Linked DNA regions of Homo sapiens: region 2 is linked to region 1. Evidence: fine-mapped expression QTL. A gene starts in region 1. The other region holds a variant in brackets. All regions are shown on one strand. Distances are from middle to middle. Region 1 holds the start of CDKN1A (cyclin dependent kinase inhibitor 1A). Region 2 overlaps CPNE5 (copine 5).

Region 1 (9,279 bases):
CCCTGGCACCTACCTGCCTGCTCTGGCTTGACTCCAGGGCTGAGTGACTGCACGACCTTGGCAGCAACTGGATTTTCCTAGGGACAAGTCCCAACTTGCAGTTTCTGGGGGTGAAAGCTCTGCTGAGTCCTCATGAGGCAGGAAGCCCGGGACACATGCCACATCTGCTCCACCCCACCTCACCCCACTGCTTGTGATCAGTGGAGCCCACAGTTTCACGTCCCAGCTGGTTGGGAGAGGAGGCTCTTGGTAACTTCACACCAAGTTTAAAGGGCAGGAGATGGAAGAGATATGAGACTTGCCCCTGAGTCATACAGCTAAAAAGGCCAAAGGCCACTGCCCCATAAAGGGGTCACCCAGTACAGTGGACAGAGCCCTCAAATAACCTCTATCCACCCTCTGCTAGGCATGAGTTGGGATTTATTTATATATTTTTATGTTTGGGGGCTGTTCTAAGCAGTTTAAAAATATCAATCCTCCTAAAAAGTGGATATCTATTAGCTCCCTTTTTACAGAAGAGGCAACCAAGGCTCAGATAAGTTAAGTAACTTGCCTAACATCACACAGTTCATAAGTGGCACAGCCAGGATCTGAACCCAGGCCTGTTTGCCCTGAGTCCTGTGCTGTAGTATTGAACCCCACTCCCTCTCTAATTTTGAGGTTTCTTAACCAGAGAGGCCCATCACAATCACTTGGGGAGGCCAGGGGCAGTGGCTTATGCCTGTAATCCTAATACTCTGGGAGGCAGAGGTGGGAGAATCATTTGAGCCCAAGGGTCCAAGACTAGCCTGGGCAACTAGCTGAGACCCTGTCTCTACTAAAAATAAAAATAAATAAAAATTAGCTGGGTGGTTGGGTGCAGTGTCTCACACCTGTAATCCCAGCACTTTGGGAGGCCGAGGAGGGCGGAGCACGAGGTCAGGAGATTGAGACCATCCTGGCTAACACGGTGAAACCCCGTCTCTACTAAAAATACAAAAAAAAATTAGCCGGGCATGATGGCAGCACCTGTAGTCCCAGCTACTCGGGAGGCTGAGGCAGGAGAATGGCGTGAACCCGGGAGGCGGAGCTTGCAGTGAGCCGAGATCACGCCACTGCACTCCAGCCTGGGTGACAGAGCGAGACCGCATCTCAAAAAAAAAAAAAAAAAAAAAAAAATCTGGGCATGGGGGCGGGGGGATCACGCCTGTGGTCCCGGTTACTTGGGAGGCTGAAACAGGAGGACTACTTGAGTCCAGGATGGTGCCATTGCACTCCAGCCTGGGTGACAGAGTGCAACTCTGTCGAAAGAAAAGAAAGAAAGAGAGAAAGAGAAAGAAAGAGAGAAAGAGAAAGGAAGAAAGAAAGAAAGAAAGAAAGAAAGAAAGAAAGAAAGAAAGAAAAGAAAGAAAAAGAAAGAAAGAAAGAAAAAGAAAGAAAGAAAGAAAGAAAGAAAGAAAGAAAGAAAGAAAGAAAGAAAGAAAAAAAGAAAGAAAGAAAAGCACCTAGGGAGTTTTTTCAAAATATAGATTGCTGAGGCCCTGCCTCCCGAGACCAACTTAATCCAGATTGAAGATTCAAGCAAGTGTTTGGCACAATTCCTCAGATGGGCACTCTTGGGTTGCCAGCCAAGCGGAGACACACTGGTATGTTTGAAATGGACATTCTGGGTCTCAATACATCATAGGCACAAGGAGGAGGCGCCCGCCTAGGGCTTCATCAAGGTGCTGGATATTCCCTGGCTCTCGGGAGTTCAAGACAGGACTAGGATCTAGGCAGGCACCCTCTCCTCTTCTACCACCCCTCCTTCTCTTATGGCTCTCATAGGCCTCTCCTCCCCCATCAAAATCTGCTCTCATGCTCATAATAACTTTCAGCCCAAAGAAAACTCAGAAACGCAAACCCTTGTTTTAGAAACAATTAAAAATAGCCTCCTTTATTGGCCTTCCTGCCTTAGACTTCAGCCATATTTTAATTTCCAGTAAGAGCTCAGTGAATACTGTTGAACCTAAGGAGTGCTCCTTTGAAGGGGTGGTAATGGCATAGGGGTTGATCTCGGATGAGCCCAGGAGTAGCCGCGGCGGTTCGCGCCGGCCAGCCCCACTCCGCGGGAAAGCCTGTGTGCTATTCCCGCCAGGGCCGGGAGGGGGCGCCGGCCTCCAGGAAATCACGCGCGGAGTGGGAGGTGCGTGGGCAGAGCCTCGGACCGCTGGAGGGAGTAGTGATGAGTCAGTTTCCTGCAAGGCGCTGCTCGCCCGCCAAAACTGCTTCCACTCCGGCTGCGCGTCACCCTGGGGTGGGGAGGGGGAGAATGGGAGGGGACCGGGGGGCCGCGAACACGTCACGCTGAGCCGGCCAGGCTTCCGAAACTCCCGCCGCTGTTGGGAAACCGCGCGCTCTTGTGCCGTCTCTGACACAGACACACACACACACACACACACACACACACACACACACGCCCGCGCAGACACGCACGCGCGCGCGCGCCGGGAGCCGGCCCCTCCACCTTATCTCCACGCCCAAAGCACGGGATGAGTCAGATCCCTGGAAAATAAAAATAGACGGGAGCAACGAAAACAAAACCGCTCGCAAGTCCTCCCAGAAACGCGACGTGGAGGGAGGCAAGGAGAGGGGAAGCTGCCTGGGCGCCCCAAGTTCCTAACCCAGCTCCAAGATGCTTTTCCTCACGAAGAGGGCGCAAGTGTCCCCCAGGGGTTTGGGACGGAGAGGACGCGCTGTGGTCCGCGCCAGGCGGCGGCGCCCCAGGGGGCGACTCGCCCCCCTGCTCCGCTCAGCCCTGTAGCTTTCGGAGAGGGAATCTGGGCTAGGTCGGGAAGCCCTGAGCCCCCGAGGCAGCTGATAGAGGCCCTGAGCAGCGTCGTGCCCCCCAGACCCCCCACCCCTCAAAGACATGAACCCTCCCCGCCTCCCATCCAGGCGTGGGCTCCGCTCCCGCCCCGGAGTCCAGCGCCCCGACCCGAGGACAGGCTGGGCCGCGATTCTCCCGGCCGCGGTGGGAAAGAGGTAGAGGAGACCCTTGCCCTTCCCCGACTGACAGGCTGGTTAGAGCCCGCCCAGAGCAGGGCCGTGACTCCCCGACCCCTACAGCGCGCCGCGGAGCGGGGACCCGACGCGGTGTCCCGGACCTCCAGTGCCCGGCTTCCTTGGGAACAAACTGTTCCAGCCAAATAGGTCACTGTGCCGATGGGAGGACGGAGACCGCGAAGGGGCAGGGGAGAGGGCTTCTGGAGTCCCGCTGTACCCCATCCCGGGCGGGGTTCTGACCTCATACAGTCCGTTCCCTGGGGTCTCCTTGTCACAGTGAGTCACCTCCTCGCTAGTCCTTAGGGGACGGGTCCTGGCACATTCCCAAGGGCCAGGAAACAGCCCGCGCTGACCTCAGCGCTCAGCCAGGTGGTGGACACAGTGGCGTAAAGGACCTGAACCTGGGACCTGGGCCAGGGCGGCGCAGATTGGATCCCAGAGCCACCCGGGACCGATCCTAGACGAACTTACTCCACTCCGCTTTCCTCGCCCTTCCTGGGCCCCTCCAGGGACACGGACTTCATCCCCACGCCGCGAGCAAACTGCGCCTGGGGCCTGGAGCCAACCGCAGCCAAAGGCGAGCTCCCAGAACGGTCCCGTCCACGCCCTCCCTCGCCCCAGCTGGGTTTCCAGGGGCGGGGAGCGTGACCAGGGATTCCTGTACTTGTAATCCCGCTCTCCGCCCCGGGGTCTCCGGCACATCCCGACTCTCGTCACCCGCGCACTTAGAGACACCGTGTGCGCAAGCCGAGCGCGCACCGACCCACGCCCGTCATTCACCTGCCGCAGAAACACCTGTGAACGCAGCACACACCCGCGAACACGCATCCTCGCGGACACGCAGGGACACACGCGGGCACGCTTGGCTCGGCTCTGGGCCGCCGGCCCGGGGTCCCCTGTTGTCTGCCGCCGCTCTCTCACCTCCTCTGAGTGCCTCGGTGCCTCGGCGAATCCGCGCCCAGCTCCGGCTCCACAAGGAACTGACTTCGGCAGCTGCTCACACCTCAGCTGGCGCAGCTCAGCGCGGCCCTGATATACAACCGCCCCGCCCGGGCCCGCCTCAAGGAGGCGGGACCCGCGCTCGGCCCACCGCGCCGCCCGGGACCGCCCTCCCCGGGGCCCAGGCTCCTGGCTGCCCAGCGCCGAGCCAGCTGAGCCTGGCCGAGTTCCAGCAGGCCAGCCGGTCCCGGAACCTCGCGTGCTGCAGGAGGGCACTTCCCTCCTCCCCCAGTCCCTCGCCTGCGTTGGTGCGCTGGACACATTTCCCCACGAAGTGAGCCACAAATCTGGCTTTTTTTACTTGGAGAATGAGTTGGCACTCTCCAGGAGGACACAGCACTGTTAGAATGAGCCCCCTTTCTGGCTCACCGCTGACCCACTCTGGCAGGCAAGGATTTACCCAATGCAGCTGAAAAGATCAGGAGGATGACATTAATACATAAAAATTCATAAATTATAAAAACGATGCACCTCTCTGCAATTTCCAGAAAAGCCCCACAATATCACCTCTATTCCCACTGATCCCTCACTAGGTCACCTCTCCCAGAAGCACCTGGAGCACCTAGACACCCCAACAAAGCATCTTGAGGCCAGAATGATTTTTCAGTCCCGTTTATTTCACAGATGAGGAAATTGAGGTCCACTGAACTTAAGTATACAAAGTTGTTGATTGTCACATGCTTCCGGGAAGGAGGGAATTGGAGAGACTACCAAAAAAGGGCAACCTGATCTCCAGGGAAACAGAAGAATTGGACATTGAACCAATCTCCCTACACCCTACACTCACCTGAACAGAAGAAATCCCTGTGGTTGCAGCAGCTTTGTTGGCCAGGAAGGGGAGGATTTGACGAGTGAGTTGTCTGTCTCCTGAATACTCCCCACATAGCCCGTATACACTGCTGGGGAAACTGGGGCTCAGAGAAGTCTGGTGACCTAACTCAGATCATGCAGCAAAGAAATGACTATAGTTGGAACACAGGACTTTTGCCTCCTGCCCGGGGCTCTCTGCTTGTCATCCTTTATTTCTGTGGCTCCAAAATGACAAAAATGCCAAATAACCCTCATTTGCAGATGGTTTATGGAGATGACATAAATAAAGGACAATTCTGGAAGTGTCTACTGGTTCTTCTGACAGACACAGAAATGAGTGATGTGTCTATCCGCTCCCATCTACCTCACACCCCTGACCTCCCCTGGACTTCACCTTTGCCTCCTTTCTGTGCCTGAAACATTTGCAGTTTTGCTTTTAAAAAATTGCAGAGGATGGATTGTTCATCTGAACAGAAATCCCACTAAAAAACAGAACCCAGGCTTGGAGCAGCTACAATTACTGACATCTCAGGCTGCTCAGAGTCTGGAAATCTCTGCCCAGACATGCCCAGTCTTCTTCCTCTAACGCAGCTGACCTCGGGGAGGACAGGCTTCTTTCTCCTCTGCTGTGGGGATGGGAGCCCAGGTAGGGGTGGGAGGACACAGTAGCAGACCCCCTTGGCCTGCCTCGCCCTGGAGTCAGGCCAGGATTGTGGCTAAACCCCAGAAAGGCCACGGCACAGCCTCAGGACCCCACTCTAAGCCCCACTGCTGTCTGCACCTTCGCTCCTATACATCCAAACCATCCAAAGGGCTGGTTGTCAAATGTCCAGCAGAGGACAGGCACCTTCTCCCACTGCCTTGAAGCCCCTCTGCTTTCAGGCATTTCAAATAGACTAGACATTGTCTGTCTGTTTACTTTGGGGAGAAAATTTTTTTTAATAAAGGCTTGTAATGAATTATTTAAATTTTTGTGGTACTGAGCTTCACAATGAAATAATTCTTTTTGTTGTTGTTTTTGGGAAAGAATTTTTTTTATAACTTCTAGCTCACCACCACCACGACATTCAATATTTCTTAAGTACCTACTAAGTGTCTAGTACTATTCAGTGCTTTAAAAAAAAAAGTTTGCAACCATGCACTTGAATGTGTACCCAGACACACTCTAAGGGAGGACTTCTGCCCTGAAAAAGGCAAGGGAGCAGGCTGTTAAAAGTCACACACAGAATCTGACTCCCAGCACACACTCACACAAGCACACATGCATCAGATCCCAGCCCTGTCGCAAGGATCTGCTGGCAGATCACATACCCTGTTCAGAGTAACAGGCTAAGGTTTACCTGGGGTCTTTAGAGGTCTCCTGTCTCCTACCATCCCCTTCCTCACCTGAAAACAGGCAGCCCAAGGACAAAATAGCCACCAGCCTCTTCTATGCCAGAGCTCAACATGTTGGGACATGTTCCTGACGGCCAGAAAGCCAATCAGAGCCACAGCCTGCTGCCCAAGCATGTTCCTGGGAAGCAGGCAGCATAGGGATGGAGGGAGGCTCAGCCTGGGGGACAAGAGTGCCCAGTCCAGCCCCCTCCCCAGAGTGCGGTGGAGCAGCATGGGGTAGGGGAATGGTGAAAGGTGGAAAGCCCAAGCCTGAAGAAGGAGGATGTGAGGAAGGCTCAGTGGTGGCTGCAGAAGCTGCCTAGGAAGGGAGAGGAAGTGCTGGGAACAATGTCACCATTTCTCAGAAAGAGACTGGGGAGTCCCAAATAGGGGCAGTCAGCTTTCAGAGGAATTCACCTTCACACAGGCTCCCAAGAAGTGAGACCCCAGAGAAGAGGCGGAACAAAGATAGAACATTATTGAGCAGAGGCAGCCCTGGCTTTTTGTTTTCATTTTGTTTTTTTGTTTTGTTTTGTTTTTTGAGACAAAGTCAGCAGTGGCACAATCTCAGCTCACTGCAGTCTCCGCCTCCCAGGTTCAAGCAATTCTGCCTCAGCCTCCCGAGTAGCTGGGATTACAGGCATGCACCACCATGCCCAGCTAATATTTGTATTTTTTTTTTTGCACAAAAAGTTGGATTTATTGTTTCTGACAAGTGGTTAGTAATTTTCAGTTTGCTCATGTTCCTAGCATCACAAATCTGAAGTACAATTTTGCTTCTCAATTAAAAATATATACTGGCCGGGCGTGGTGGCTTACGCCTGTAATCCCAGCACTTTGGGAGGCCGAGGCGGGCAGATCACAGGGTCAGGAGTTTTGAGACCAGCCTGGCCAATATGGTGAAACCCCGTCTCCATTAAAAATACAAAAATCAGCCGGGCATGGTGGTGGGCACCTGTAGTCCCAGGTATTCAGGTGGCTGAGGTGGGAGAATCGCTTGAACCTAGGAGGCGGAGGTTGCAGTGAGCTGAGATCATGCCACCTGCACTCCAGCCTGGGTGACAGAGTGAGACTCCGTCTCAAAAAAAAAATATATAAATCTTTGTGTAAAATGAAAAAAAAATCAAGGCATAAAAATTTCATTGTGTTCTACATTTTTAAATATAAATTGCCTCCTTTAAAATATTTTCATCCATTCATTCAAAAACCTTTTAACTTCAACTGTCCAATTTAAGATAGAGTGAAGACATTTTTGAGTATCTGAACTAAGCATTGTCTTGACTGAAACGAAGTAAGAACTCTATGAGAGTCCTTGTGGGCCTCCCGGTCATGCCTTTCCATAGATAGGGAACCTCATCTTTGTTGGTCATCACACCTGCTATGTCTAAATGTGCCCACTTAGGATGAGTCACGAATTCTTTCAGGAATGCCGCAGATGTACATGCTCCCGCAGATCTATATTTTCCAATGTTGTTAACATCAGCCAGCTGGCAATCTACAACCTGTCTTGTACAATGTTTGAAGAGAGGCATCCTCCAGACACGGTCCCCTGTTTCAATGCTGGCCTCGAAGAGCTTGTTCCAGAGCCAGGATGAATTGGTAAAGACCCCAGTGGCACCTGACCCCAAAGCTACATCTATGACACCTGTTAAGGTGGTGGCATTGAGGATGACCTTCGGGTTAAATGTGTGCACGTAACAGAGCGCATCAGCCAGTATGAGCCTCCCCTCAGCATCAGTGTTACCAACCTGGATGGTCTTCCTGTTCCTGGCTCTAACAACATCCCCCAGCTTGTTGGCCTTGCCGCTGGGCATGTTTTCACAGAGGGGCCAGACCTATAATATTAATGGGCAAACTGAGATTTGCAGCAGACACAATGGCTGAGCATATAGTTGTAGCTCCTCCCATGTCGGCCCTCATGAGGTCCATATTTGCAGAAGCCTTGATGGAGATACCACCACTGTCAAAGGTAATTCCTTTCCCAACAAACAAGGGGTGGTTTGTCTGCATTGGGGCTGCCTATGTAGTGAATTTCCAAGAAGACTGAGGGCTCGTCAGATCCTTTGGCCACACTGAGGAATGATCCCATTGCCTGTTCCTCAATCCAAGACCTGGGTCTGATATGAAACTCGGTTTACTACTAGCGCTTTTGAGATTCTTCTCAATAATTTCGGCAAATCTGGTTGGCATCATCTCGCTGGCTGGCGTCTCCATCATGCCAAGTTCTGCCCAGAAGCAAACAGGACTCCTTTCTGCCAGGCCTCCTGATCCCCAGTTCCATAGAGCTTCACCGACATAGCCATCTTCTTTTTTTGCTTTAGGTCATCGTATTCATAGAGACCAAGCACCGCGCCCTCCTCAGCAGCCTGAGCATCTCTACAGGGATCCACCTCCACGGAAGAGAGCTCCAGGTCTTGAATCTGCCTGCATCCTGCTGCAACAGCAGCTCTGATGTTTTCTTTGCCTTCCTGCCAGTTTTCCTGTTCGTCGATTCTGGCTGCCTTTTTGCCGAGGCCAACTAGCACCACGCTGGGGAAGTCCTGATGCAGACCATAAAAGTTTCGAGTCTTGCCTGCCTTCAGAGGTGGTCCAGATATGTTCAAAGTCTCTCTCAGCTTTCCAGCTATCAATTTATCAAGATTCTCTCCTGCACTTGTGAACTGTGGCACATCATCTTCTTTTTCTTTGGAATAGATTCCTAAAACAAGGCCCTTCGTCATGTCTGCAGCGGAGAGACCCCGGCTCCCGAAACATCTCACGGCCAGACGTCAGACGATGACTCGCCCCACCCAATGTTTGTATTTTAGTAGAGAGAGGGTTTCTCTATGTTGGTCAGGCTGGTCTCAAACCTCGACCTCAGTTGATCTGTCTGCCTCGGTCTCCCAAAGTGCTGAGATTACAGGCGTGAGCCACTGCGCCCAGCCTATTTTTATTTTTTATATATTTTTTGAGATGGAATCTTGCTCTGTTGCCCAAGCTGGAGTGCAGTGGCGTGATCTCAGCTCACTGCAACCTCCACTTTCTAGGTTCAAGCGATTTTCCTGCCTCAGCCTCCCGAGTAGCTGGGATTAC
Region 2 (11,904 bases), 78 kb before region 1:
TCTGTGCCATGCAAACTGAGAATTAAATAAGTTAATGGAACAATGCCTGACCCAGAGGTCAGCACTGTCTTCTGTCACCATCTGCTGAGCACTGTGTGCCCAGAGGTTCACATTTTACAACCATCCTACCATCCTGGCACTGTCCTCATGCTAGCAGCCACTCAGCCAGCAAAGTTGAAGAGCTGGCCTTGAGTTCCATCACTGAATCCAAATCCCATGCTACCCCCACTCCTTTGCCCTGCATGTCGGTTCTGAGTGGGCAGGTCTTGTGTTCCAACTAGACTTTCCAAGGGCTGGTGAGGTGACAGCCCTGTCTGTTGCCTCCCCTCACTGGCCAGGGCACTGCCGGGCACACAGTAGGTGTGTTATACATTCGCATGCTGAATGAGATTGAACATGGCTATTGTGAAGATGGAGTGTGGATGAATTTATTTGAAAGGGCTCTAATACAGTACATTGCTTTGTTTTCTGCATCTGCAAAGAGAGAAGCTGTCTTTGTCCCCGCTCCCCCGCCCCACCCCAGTCAGAGAGAAGCAGATGCCACCATTCTCTGGCCTCCTTTGAGGAGATTTAGGGAGGTGAAGGGAAGGGGTCAGATCTCTCCGAGCTTGGCTTCTAAAGGTGCTTGACAGGCCCAGAAGGAGCTGTTTCTCTCGGGCTAAGAGCAGAAAGCATTCAATTGACTTGTTTTCTCAGTTGTTGATCCCTGCTTCTTTGTAATCAACAAGAGAAAGTGCCACACTGGGAGGCAGAAGCACTGTCTGCACACATCGGAAGGCCATCAGCTGAAAAAGGAGCACAGCTCTGGCAGTCCCAGGGGGAGGCTGGTTTGGGGCAGGAAGGCCTTGCTAGAATCAGAACTGCCTGAAAAGGGAACAGGCTCCAGCCAGTAAAGACCTGTGCCTCGGGCCCTGGCATTGCCCTAGTGTCAGGCTCCTATGTCCAGCTGTCTGCTGGCCCTTCCTGTAGCTCAGCCTTCCAAAACTGAACACATTAGCTAAACCTCCCACAGCACTCCCGTCCTCCTGGCGAGCCGGCTTCATCTCAAATATTCCCATCATGGGGGCTCAGGGCACCTTAGGGGTCATACTTAACTTCCCCATCCCTCATTCCATATCCAGTCCACGAGCAAACACTGCTCGCCTACCACCCATGTTTTCTGACATCGTTCCCCTCATCTCAGGCCACCACCACCAACTTCATCATCTCCCCCCTTATGGGGCTTTGCCACAGCCTCCTTTCTTCCTTCTGTCCTCTACACAGTAACCAGCGTACTCCACCAAAATAGTGATCTGATCACATCGCTCCCCTGCTTAAAATCTGTGTAGGGCATTCCACCCACCTCCTTAGCCTGGTTCGCACATGGGAGGTGGGAAGAGATACTGAAAGATGCTCCCACCGCAGCTGAGATCCACTGACCTACAGGGTGAAGTTCCAAGCTCTTTCATTTGGGATGCTGTTTCCCCAGCCAGCCACCCGCAATCTGTGTATGCGTGCTTTTTTTTTTTTTTTAAGATGGAGTCTCATTCTCACCCAGGCTGGAGTGCAGTGGCACAATCTCGGCTTACTGCAACCTCCACCTCTACTTCCAGGCTCTAGCTATCCTCCCACCTCAGTCTCCCAAGTAGCTGGGACCACAGGCACACACCACCACCCTGGCGATTTTTTTTTTTTTTTGCATTTTTGGTAGAGATGGGTTTTTGCCATGTTGCCCAGTCTGGCCTCCAACTCCTGAGCTCAGGTGATGCACCCGCCTCGGCCTTGCAAAGTGCTGGGATTTCAGGTGTGAGCCACCACGCCTGGCTGTGCATGTAAATAAAAACACACATCACATGCCTTTGGAGGCCCCTAGGAGCTGGCCCCTGCCCCTTCCCTCTGCCCATTCCCACATTCATCCCCGTCCTGCCACCTGAGGCTCTCTGAACCTCCGTGCTGTCTCAGCCTCCAGGGCTCGATTCATATGGGTGCCTCCACCTGAGACTCCCTCTTGTCTTCTCCTGGGTAGGAGCTATTGGTCCACGGAGCCTCCCTGTGGGTGTTCCTCCTCCAGGAAGTTGTGTCCACCTGCACACCCGCCCCACCCCAGAGCCTGGAGTGGACACTTGTCAGTGCTCCTGGGGTTCCTTCTGGCTATTTTCTGTTTTGTGACACTATTCAACCCCTCAAAGACCTTGAAGTCCTCAGGGTGGGGGTTGTGTTGCACTTACTGCTGCATCCCCAGAGCCAGCACAGCTCCTGGCCCCTAGGAGCCCCTCAGTGCCCCCACCCACCCCACCTAATGTGCGCAGGAGGGCAGATTCCAGACCTGTCCTGTCCCCGCCTGACCACCAAGAAGAAGGGAGGTGACTTAGTGGAGGGGCAGCTCCTCGGCTGGCCCCTAGGTGGCGCTGGCCCCCTGCATGGGATTCACCGTGGCGGGGCTGGAGAGGCTGAGGCTGGGAGCATGAAACCTCAGGGTAAACAGGGATCTGAGAACAGAACATTGCTTTAACATTAAAGCAGTTATATCAGAGAGTGGAAATGTGGAATACAGGCTAATTTAAAGATAACATAGAAAGCTTAGAAGAAACATGCTTGTGGCCAAATCTTTGGTTACTCTCAGGACTCCGGGTTCATTCTCCCCAGCTGGGAGGGCTATGTTGGAGCAAAAGTTTGAGATGCTGTCCATTCCGATAGTTCAACACCCTCAAGGGAGAGATTGGGAAACTGAGGCACAGTGCAGCACTGGGGCTGCCATTTTGCCCTCATCTTAACAGCTTGCCTACTTAAGCTGTTTTCCCATGAATGTGTCCGTGAGCACCTCACCATCTGGGTAACCCCGTGGAGGGGGCGTCCTCCAGTGCTAAAGAGGGTGCTCTGGTCTTCTCTCCCGGGCTCTCTCACCATCTCGCCCAGGCCCTCAGTTTCTACCTGCACAGCTTGCCAGACCTCCCACGTGAACTTCCCACCTGTGCCCCAAATCCAGCGCCTTCCTTCTGTGTCTACCTGGTCACCCCAACCCCTCCCTCTCTCGAACCTCTATAGCCACGCCCAGGGCCCAAGAGGCGTGGTCACTTCTTGACAGCGCTGTTCTCACCATAGCTCAGCACCTGTCCCAATACCCCCAAGTCCTCATGACCTCTCGCATGGACTTATGGTGGCAGTAATAATAGTAGTAGTAATTTTGAAAAATAGCAACTAAGGCTGGGTGCAGTGGCTCACGCCTGTAATCCCAACACTCTGGGAGACTGAGGCAGGAGGATTGCTTGAGCCCAAGAGTTTGAGACCAGCCAGAGTAACATAGCGAGATCCTATCTCTACCAAAAAAAAAAAAATAGCCAGACATGGTGGCAGCTACCTGGAAGGATTGCTTGAGCCCGGGAGGTTGAGGCCACAGTGAGCTATGACCCCACCACTGCACTCCAGCCTGGGCCATAGAGCAAGACCCCGTCTTAGAAAAAAGCAACAGACACGTATAGATAATACTTACTACATTCCAAACTGTTCTAGGCACTTTGCTTGCATTGGCCCATTTAATCCTCATACCTTTCCGGGAGGCAGGTACTTCTTATTCCCATTTTAGAGATGAGGAGACTGAGGCACATTGAGGTTAAGTAACCTGCCTAAGGTCACACAGCTATTATTAGGTGGCAGAACTAGGCAAATATTTCCTGGATGAGCCTCCTCCTCCCCTCACACTCACCTCCACCAGGCCCCAGTGTCCTAGAGCCTGCTCTGATTTTGTCTCCTACCAGCTTGGGGGTCATCAGAGTTCCCTGCAGGCCGCTGGGTGACATTCAGACATTTTTCACTGGGCATTCTAGGCTCTCCTCCAACCAGCCCAGCTTACTCTTCCACCCTGTGGTTCTGCCATCAAACTGGGCCTGGGTTCTATTCATTTCTCCCACAGAACCTCCTCTGACATCCATCTCTCCGTGCCCAGAGCCTTCCTGTGCCTCTAAGTCTGCCTTCAAGACTTCCTGCTCCAGAGAGGCTTTGCTGACACTCTCACCTAGAGTGGTCTTTCCTTCCTCTAACTCCCCTGACACTTCTGTGATCCCCCTTGTTCCATGGCCCTTGTCACTTTTTGCCCTGAGGACATATCTTCTCTCTCCAACATAGGTGATAGATGATTCCAGGGGAGAAGCAATATATGTCTCCACCCACCCCATAAATGTATGTCAAAGAGATCTGTTTGTATCTGTTATCAAGGTGGCACCAATGTATGCACCACTGGCCCGGGGGCAGGAAACCTGGTTTCTAATCCTGTCACTACCCAGATGGCTGTGTGACTTTAGGCAAATCACCTGGTGTCGCTGTGCTTTAGTTTCCTTCTTGCTGGAAGTAGATAGCAATACTCACCCAGACAGAAGAGACCACGGTAAAGATCAGCTGACGGCCTCTGTGGGAACAAAGACAGGGAAAGGGGAAATGAGTTCACCAGAAACCAACAGGCAGCACAGGAGGTATGAAAATTGCCTGGCTTTGTTTGATGGGACATTAGGGAAAAGTTGTGCCTAGACTTCCCTTATTAAAAACAAAACAAAGAAAAACTGGCGAGGGTCAAATGAGAATACAAATACAGTAAGTGCGGAAGTCTCGTGGGGGGCCTCAGGGCTGGGTGGCTCTCGTCACTTTGCCCAGTCTTGGCCTTGGCACTACTGGGATTTGGGACTGCATCACTCCCTGCCGTGGGAGGCTGTCTTGTGTACTGTAGGATGTTTAGCAGCATGCCTGGCCTCTACTCACCCCCTCAGTTGTGGAAACCAAAACCGTCTCCAGATGTTACCAAACGTTCCTGGGGGTAAAATCGCCCCTGGTTGAGACCGCTGAGTTAGCCACCAACAAGCCTTCTCTGAGCACCTACTCTGAGCCTAGCCCCATGATTTATCTGACACAGGTCTGGTTTGGAAGTTAAAGCTTACACTCAAAGAATAGCTAAAGAGGTTCTTGCTGCCAAGTAAGAGGGATGGTGATGGAGAGGGGAGCCTCAGAGGCCCTGGGCAGCCCTTGGGCTGGGTCCCAAAGGAGGAACAGGGGAGATTGGAATTGGCTGAGAGAGGAAGGGGGTGCATTTTTGGTGAGGGGAGCAGCCTCAACCAACACAAGGGACAGGTACAGATAGGGCCGCTTTGCAACATCAAGACTTCTTTGGCTATACTGGGTGGAGGGTGCGTGTGTTCCGGGGAACAGTGGGAGAGAAGGTTAAATAAATATTCCCGGTTGATCGTGGGACCCTGGGTCTGATGGGAGAACCCAGTTGTGTAACCCAGACTCAATACCAGTCTCCCACAAATCCTCCTTAAACCCTTCTCCCCTGGCCCCGTGGTCTTCACACCCCACACTCTAATGGGGCTGGGCTTGGACCACACCCATGGGTGGTTGGAAGCCCTCAAGACTCACCCTGACTGCCTGGAAGCATGCCTTACCTGGTAACTGGTTTTTCCTGCAGGTGGTAAACCCGAAAAAGAAAATGAAGAAAAAGAAATACGTGAATTCTGGCACAGTGAGTAGCCACCCCGGTCTCTGCAGCCGGGTGTAGACATTCTGAGCCCCAAGCTAGGTCTGGTATCAGGGAGGCCCGTGCGTCTGTGTGTGTGCAGGGGCTGAGCGTGGGAATCAGACATCCAAGAGAGATGGGGTGGGGAGGGGTGGGGCAGATGGAGCAACAGCCAGGGGAGAGAGTTGACTTGCAGACCACACAACAGGCGCTGGCTGTATCTAGCATGAGGAATCGCAGAGACATCCACGGGACTTCCTGCAGGAAGGAAGAGGAAGAGAAGTCGTATTTATTGGGCCCCTACCCTGGGAAATTCCCCACGTTGGTGCTTTTCACAGGTTGTTGCCCTGAGAGGCAGATATTATCATCCCCTA[G/A]TCATGAAAGAGGAAACCAAGGCTGCAAGCAGGAAAGTGACTCAGCCAAGGTCACACAGCTAGAAAGTGGTAGAGATGGGACTCAACATGACATCTCACTCCAGAGCTGGCAGCTGCTACGGGCGCTGCCCCTGCTTAACCGTGACCTTCCTGGGATGACACGCCGGCCTAGTGGCTTCTCGGGGCTGGTCTTGAGGACATTCATACGCTTCTTCAGCAAATACTTACTGAGTGCTACTGTGTGCCAGGCACTATTCTAGGCACATCAGATACAGCTGGAAACAAGACAGACCCAAATCCCTGGTGCTTATATTCTAGTGGGAGGAGACAGAGAAAAAAAAAAAACACACACACACACACACACATGCCTGTGTGTGTCAGTTGATTATGAGAGCTATGGAAAAAGTATAAAGGGTAAAGGGACAGGCAATGGAGGAAGTATTGAGGATACTGGGGAAAGGGAATTCCAGCATTCCTGCTGTAGAGAACAGCACATGCAAAGGCCCTGAGGTGGAGCTCACAGTGCATTTCTAGAACAAGCCACTTTCTCTGCAGTGCAAACACACCCAGATTCATCCTCTCTGTGTTCCTTCCTCACTCTAGAGGCCCATGGCTAGTGCAGCCAAGCCTGGTCATTTGAGTCAGGCAGACTGTATCTCCAGACCTAGAAGAGGTTTTCAGGAGCTCTGGGGTTCCTCTGAGAAGCCTCATTTTCTCCGTCTGTAAAGTAGGACTAATAAATCATCCCCACCTTGCCACTGCACAGGGCAGCTGTGACAGACACATGGGAGATGCAGGCTTGTGAACTGTAAAATTACTCTGCTCATTCAAAGGGGACTGAACACCACTTCTTTGATTGTAACTGCTTCACAGACTGGGGCTTGGAGTCATATTTCCTTTGTCCAAGGCTGCGGTGTTTCTTAGTGGAGAGGCTGTCAGCATTTGGGCAGGAAAATTCTTCATCTCACAGGATGTTTAGCACCCCTGGCTGCTGCCCATAGCTACCAGTAGAGCCCCAGTCATTATGAGAACCCCCAAAATTCTCCCACGCCTTCCTAAATTCCCCTAGGGAAGACAGCACCTTCCCCAGCTGGGAATAAAAAGGTTCAAAAACCACTGATCTCATCCAGCCTTCTTACTTTAGAGACGAAGAAACTGTGGCCTAGAGAGGGCATGCGATTTGTCCCAGGTCACACAGTGAGCTGGAGACAGAGCGGGCCTAGGCCCAGGTCTCTTGACTTTCCTTTTACTCCAGCATTTCCCCATCTTCATCGCGAAAAATCACCCGGGATGCAGAAAGCTTGCTGAAATACAGACGCCCAGGCCAGTTCCCTGGGATTCCACTTTAGGAGGCCCAGGAATCTGTGTTTAGTGCTTTTCATCCCTTACTTATGGTGTGCAGAATCCCCTGGGGATCTTGTGAAAATGCCAAGAATCTGCATTTCTGCATTTCTACCTGGCATCGAGGTGATGCTGACGCTCTGGTCTAGGGACACTACCCTTTGAATAGGGGAAAGTCTGCTTTCACCCTGCGAGCCCCTGGGTGAACCCATATGGTCAGGGCAGTTAGGGCATTGCTTCATCCTGGGGGTTGGAATGGGGAGTGGTCAACTGTGTCTGCAGATTAGACTTACGTGAAGAGCTAAAAAAAAAAAAAAAAAAGAAGATCTCTGAAACATTCATGTAGCCCCGGAAACTCGGCTATAATGGGTCTGGGCTGCAGGATGATCTAAGAGCCCCCAGGGCATCTCATGGTCATCAGTCAGGGTTGAAGCCACTGCCGTGGTTCCTAGTAAGTCTGAGCTGCCACACTTGGAAGGAGGCCTGTGGTTCATCCAGGTGCCTAATACCTTAACCACAATAGCTGGGGGTCTTACTGCCAAGTAAGGGTGGTGCTCTCACCTGGCCCTCCCAATGAGCCTGTAAAAACAGCTGAATCTTCATGAATAGGGGGCTCCCAAACTACCAGAGAGGAGTTCGTTCTCTTACACAGGTGAAAGGTCCTCTGCCCTAATCTTGTCTCATATAATTGGCCTAGGATGCCAGGCTTTCATTTGTCTCCTTGATTCTAAATTGTTATGATAATGAGCTGCCAGGTAGCTGCCTGTCTTGGCAAAGCCAAAGCTAACTTTGCCAGGGCATAGGTTAAAAGGCCTCTGCTTGGGGGAGGGGGCCTGGGGTAGTCAGTTACCTCTGGGGAAAAGGATGGGCTACTTATGAGGCAGGATCTTGGGTCTGAGAGGGATGAGATGGGACCAGTAAGATTTAAGATAAGCACAGTCCAAAGAGGCACATTTCAGGACTAATAGCTCTAGGCACATGGAAGCCTGAAGCTGGTCGGCATTGGCAGGTTGTTAGGCCTGTGCCAGGAGGGCCCCCTTGTCCTCCACACCCCACCCTAGGTCCCTGGGGCTGAAGAGCCAGTGCCCACTTAGAGGAAACTAACACCCTTGGCTTGGACCCCGGTTCCACTGACACAGATGGGACCCTTCCGTCAAGGTCAAGAGTGCAGGCTCTGAAGTCAGACACACCCTGGTTTCAGATCCCTTCTCTGCCCTGGCAGTGTCCTTGGGCACATTGCACCACCTCTTTGGGTTTCAGTTTCCTTGGCTATAAAGTGGGGATAATAATAGTACTTCATGGGGTGGTGTGGGCAGTGCATGCAGTCATGCATGCAAAACTGGCACATGCCGAGTGTTCTGTCAATGTCAGCTCTCGAATCATAACCCATCTCCCCTGACCCCAGGCTCCCCACTGACCAAGCTCCCTTTTGTTTTGAAGGTCACCCTGCTTTCCTTTGCTGTGGAGTCAGAGTGCACCTTCCTTGACTACATCAAAGGAGGGTGAGAAGAGATACAGCCAATTTCATGGGCCTTGGGGAGAGGGAAAGGGCCCCACACACCGACAGGACCGGCTCTGGCCCCACCCTGGCCTCTTCAAAGCCCTGGTTGAAGGCTGTGGTGCTGGGCTCTGAGCAAACCCTGGTGTTTGGGCTGAGACAACTCATCCAGAGCCCTGCACATCCCCAGATCCCAAGCAGCTTGGAGGGAACTCCTGAGCCAAGGAGGCTGGCCTGGGTCATGTCAGGTCTCCATGCAGAGACAGGACCTGGAGCTGGTAGGGACTCCGTGACAGAAAGCCAAGGGCTTGGGGATGTAGAAAGAACCCTGCAATAGGAGTCAGGAGGCCCAGGCTCTAGGCCTCTCTTTGCCATTAATTTGCTGGGTTCCTTTGGGTGAGTCATTTTTCCTCTCAGGGTATCAGTTTCCTCCTCTGTACACAAAGAGAACGGAATAGGTAAGTGTTAAGGTTCCTTACAGCTCTGAGCTTCTGACACCTCTGATCTGTCTGGTTGGGGGAGGGGGACAGTGATTAACCTGCTCACTGTTATTAGGGCCCTGTAAGGGCAGCGGGATTGGGGATAAGCCAGGGATTGGTCCTGGGGCCAGCAGGTGGTCAAACATGAGTTTAAGGAGCAGAAAGAACCACCAGGCACAGTGTCTAGGCCCAGACAGATGGGGGAGCCAGGAGGCCCCAGCCAGCAGCTCACGGAAAGAGCCTGGCTCTAAGGGTAGAGCCTGCCCAGCATGCTGCCTGCCAGGACAGGTGCCAGGTCAGGGCGTGGGCAGCCAAGAGCCCGCAGGTGAGTGACTGCACCTGTCTGGAAAGGAGACAGGCAGGAGCAACTGCCAAAGGCTCATCCCAGCCAAGTGGACCCTTGGCTGCCTGGTTCTCCAGGGCAGAGGGAGAAGTCAGGTCCTGGGAAGCCACACTCACTTTCCCATGACAACACTCCCTGCTGCCTTGAGCTTGCAGTCTCAAGGCTGCAAGCTCTCCTCCTACCCACTGAGCACACACCCTGCCTCCAGTCACTCAGGAGCTCCTCTGCTCTTACCTGCCCCTCCTCTGGGCTGACTCCAGACCCCGCCTTTGCACTCTTCCCCCATCAAAATTGCTTCCCTCTCAATCCCATTAATCAGCCACCCCTTACAGTCCATAGCACCTGGTAACTCTCAAACACCCCTCATCCTGTTTATTTTTATTTATGTTTATTTTATTTTATTTTATTTTATTTATTTTTTGAGACAGAGTCTCGCTCTGTCACTCAGGCTGGAGTGCAGTGGCACAATCTCGGCTTACTGCAACCTCCGCCTCCTGGGTTCAAGCAATTCTCCTGCCTCAGCCTATCAAGTAGAGTAGCTGGGGCTACAGGCATGCGCCACCACCCCCAGCTAATTTTTGTATTTTTAGTAGAGACGGGCTTTCACCATTTTGGCCAGGCTGGTCTCGAACTCCTGACCTCAGGTGATTCGCCTGCCTCGGCCTCCCAAAGTGCTGGGATTACAGGCATGAGCCACCACACCCAGTCCATCCTATTTATTTTTTTCATTTGCATAGTACCCCCAACTTACAGAACACAGTGGGCAGGATCAGAACAGTTATCCCCATTTTACAGAGCTTGCCTGAAGCCACACGCCTAGATGGTGGCAGGGTTCCTTCTCCCATAACATGCTGCCTTTCATTCTATAGTAATGAATCAGTCTAGCCTGCCTGACTTGCAGTTAGCGGGTGGGGTGGGATGAAGATGGAGACTGATGAGTTAAAGGGCTGGATGCTGTGAGGTTTCATCGAAAAGGAGCCCTCAGAGGCTGAGCTAAGCTGGTGCCACCCATACTGGGCAGGTTATAGCCCCAGAGCCAGCCCTCTCTTTAAACTCTCTGGAGAGCCTGAGTGAGGGAGCTGGCTCCAGGGACTGAGAGCCTGGCATGCATGCCCAGGCAGGAAGCTGATGTCTAGGGATCCTCTCCTCCCTGGCCTCCCTCACCTGCCCACCTGGACCCAGGAGGAAGGGTATGGGTACTTTGGCCCCACTGTCAGAGGAGGAGCTGGTTGCTCAGCAGCCTGTGTTCTACCCTTAGGCAGGAGACACTAGGCTGCTGCGAGTAATTTTCCCACAAGAGGATCTGCTTTCCAATTGCTTCCTTTCCCAAGGCTTTTCAGAACCCAGGGCAGGGGAGGACTAGTTAGAGCAAGGCCTGCCTTTCCCCTCACCCTGTATTTGGAAGAGCCAGTCCAACAGTGTCCCTCCAGTATAGTCCCACAGGCCAGAATCATCTTCCCAAGAGTGGCCCTGGGAGCGGGACTTTCACCCTCCAAATGTCTCCCTACCTCTAACAAAGACATGCGTTCTACATTCCACACTGAAGCGGGGGTGACAACAAACAGCAGATGAGTATGGTAGGTCAACTGCTGTAACACATAATTCCCTAACCTCAAGCCTTCATACCAATAAAGGTCTGTTTTTCATCTGTGGGATGGCAGGGTTGGGTGGGGAGATGATCCACGCAGTCATTCAGGGACCCAGGTTCTTGCTAGCTTTGCGGCTCCTTCTATCCTACTGCCTGGAATCCTCTGGATGCTCTGCCCCCAGCCAGCAGAAGAGGAGAAAGAGGTGGGGATGACTGTCTGTGGCCAGCAGACCCTGGCTGGGGTCTCCTGCTAACCATGTCCTTGACATTTCCCTGGGGGTGAGTGAGGGTTCCATGAGCAGCAGCTCAGCTGTGATCAGGTGGTTTCTGATAGGGACCTTCTGCTGTGTCTGTGACAGGGATCTTGGGCTGATAGAGCTGTGGTTTCTGATAGGCACCTTCTGCTAAATGCAAGTGAGGTGAGGCCTACCTGATCTTACATCATCCATAGCCCCAACTAAGAATTACTAGAACAGAGTTTTCCCCAGCGTTATCCCAGCCTCGTGTCCTCATAATCCCTGGATGAAGGCAGTGGACATTTTTTCAAGAGGTAGATTCTGGGAGCCACTCCAGACAAACTCAATTGGCATTTCTGGGGTGGAGCCCTGGAATCTTCTTAAGCAAGCACCCGTAGTGATTCTATGCTCACTGCCGTGTGAGAACCATAAGACTAGACTTTATCAGGGACTTGTGTTTGTCAGCTTTGTTCTGTCTGGACCCGGCAGAGAACCTAGAATGGCCAAGCCCTCAGAAAGTCTCAAGCCTGAATCTGAATCCTCAAAACCTAACTTTTTATTATAGA

The links.
Region 2: its variant is fine-mapped to the expression of CDKN1A in whole blood (TOPMed, PIP above 0.99).

Annotation. Positions count from the first base shown.
Region 1 is chr6:36,673,465-36,682,743 of GRCh38, reverse strand. It overlaps CDKN1A (cyclin dependent kinase inhibitor 1A), which reads right to left and starts at 4,030. Exons shown (of 3, transcript NM_000389.5): 1 at 3,946-4,030. PANDAR (promoter of CDKN1A antisense DNA damage activated RNA) reads left to right here and starts at 7,618. Exons shown (of 1, transcript NR_109836.1): 1 at 7,618-9,123. DINOL (damage induced long noncoding RNA) reads left to right here and starts at 4,185. Exons shown (of 1, transcript NR_144384.1): 1 at 4,185-5,135. It also overlaps the pseudogene LAP3P2. RefSeq lists enhancers at 39-158, 3,149-3,736, 3,748-3,937, 5,130-6,329, 6,309-6,378 and 1 more and silencers at 2,028-2,417, 3,988-4,217.
Region 2 is chr6:36,749,826-36,761,729 of GRCh38, reverse strand. CPNE5 (copine 5) reads left to right here. Exons shown (of 21, transcript NM_020939.2): 13 at 5,432-5,485; 14 at 8,635-8,696. Among named protein-coding and RNA genes, the nearest start is that of RAB44, 58 kb to the right of the region's middle. RefSeq lists enhancers at 1,490-2,458, 2,294-2,483, 5,169-6,368. The variant G/A (reference allele first, on the strand shown) is at 5,854.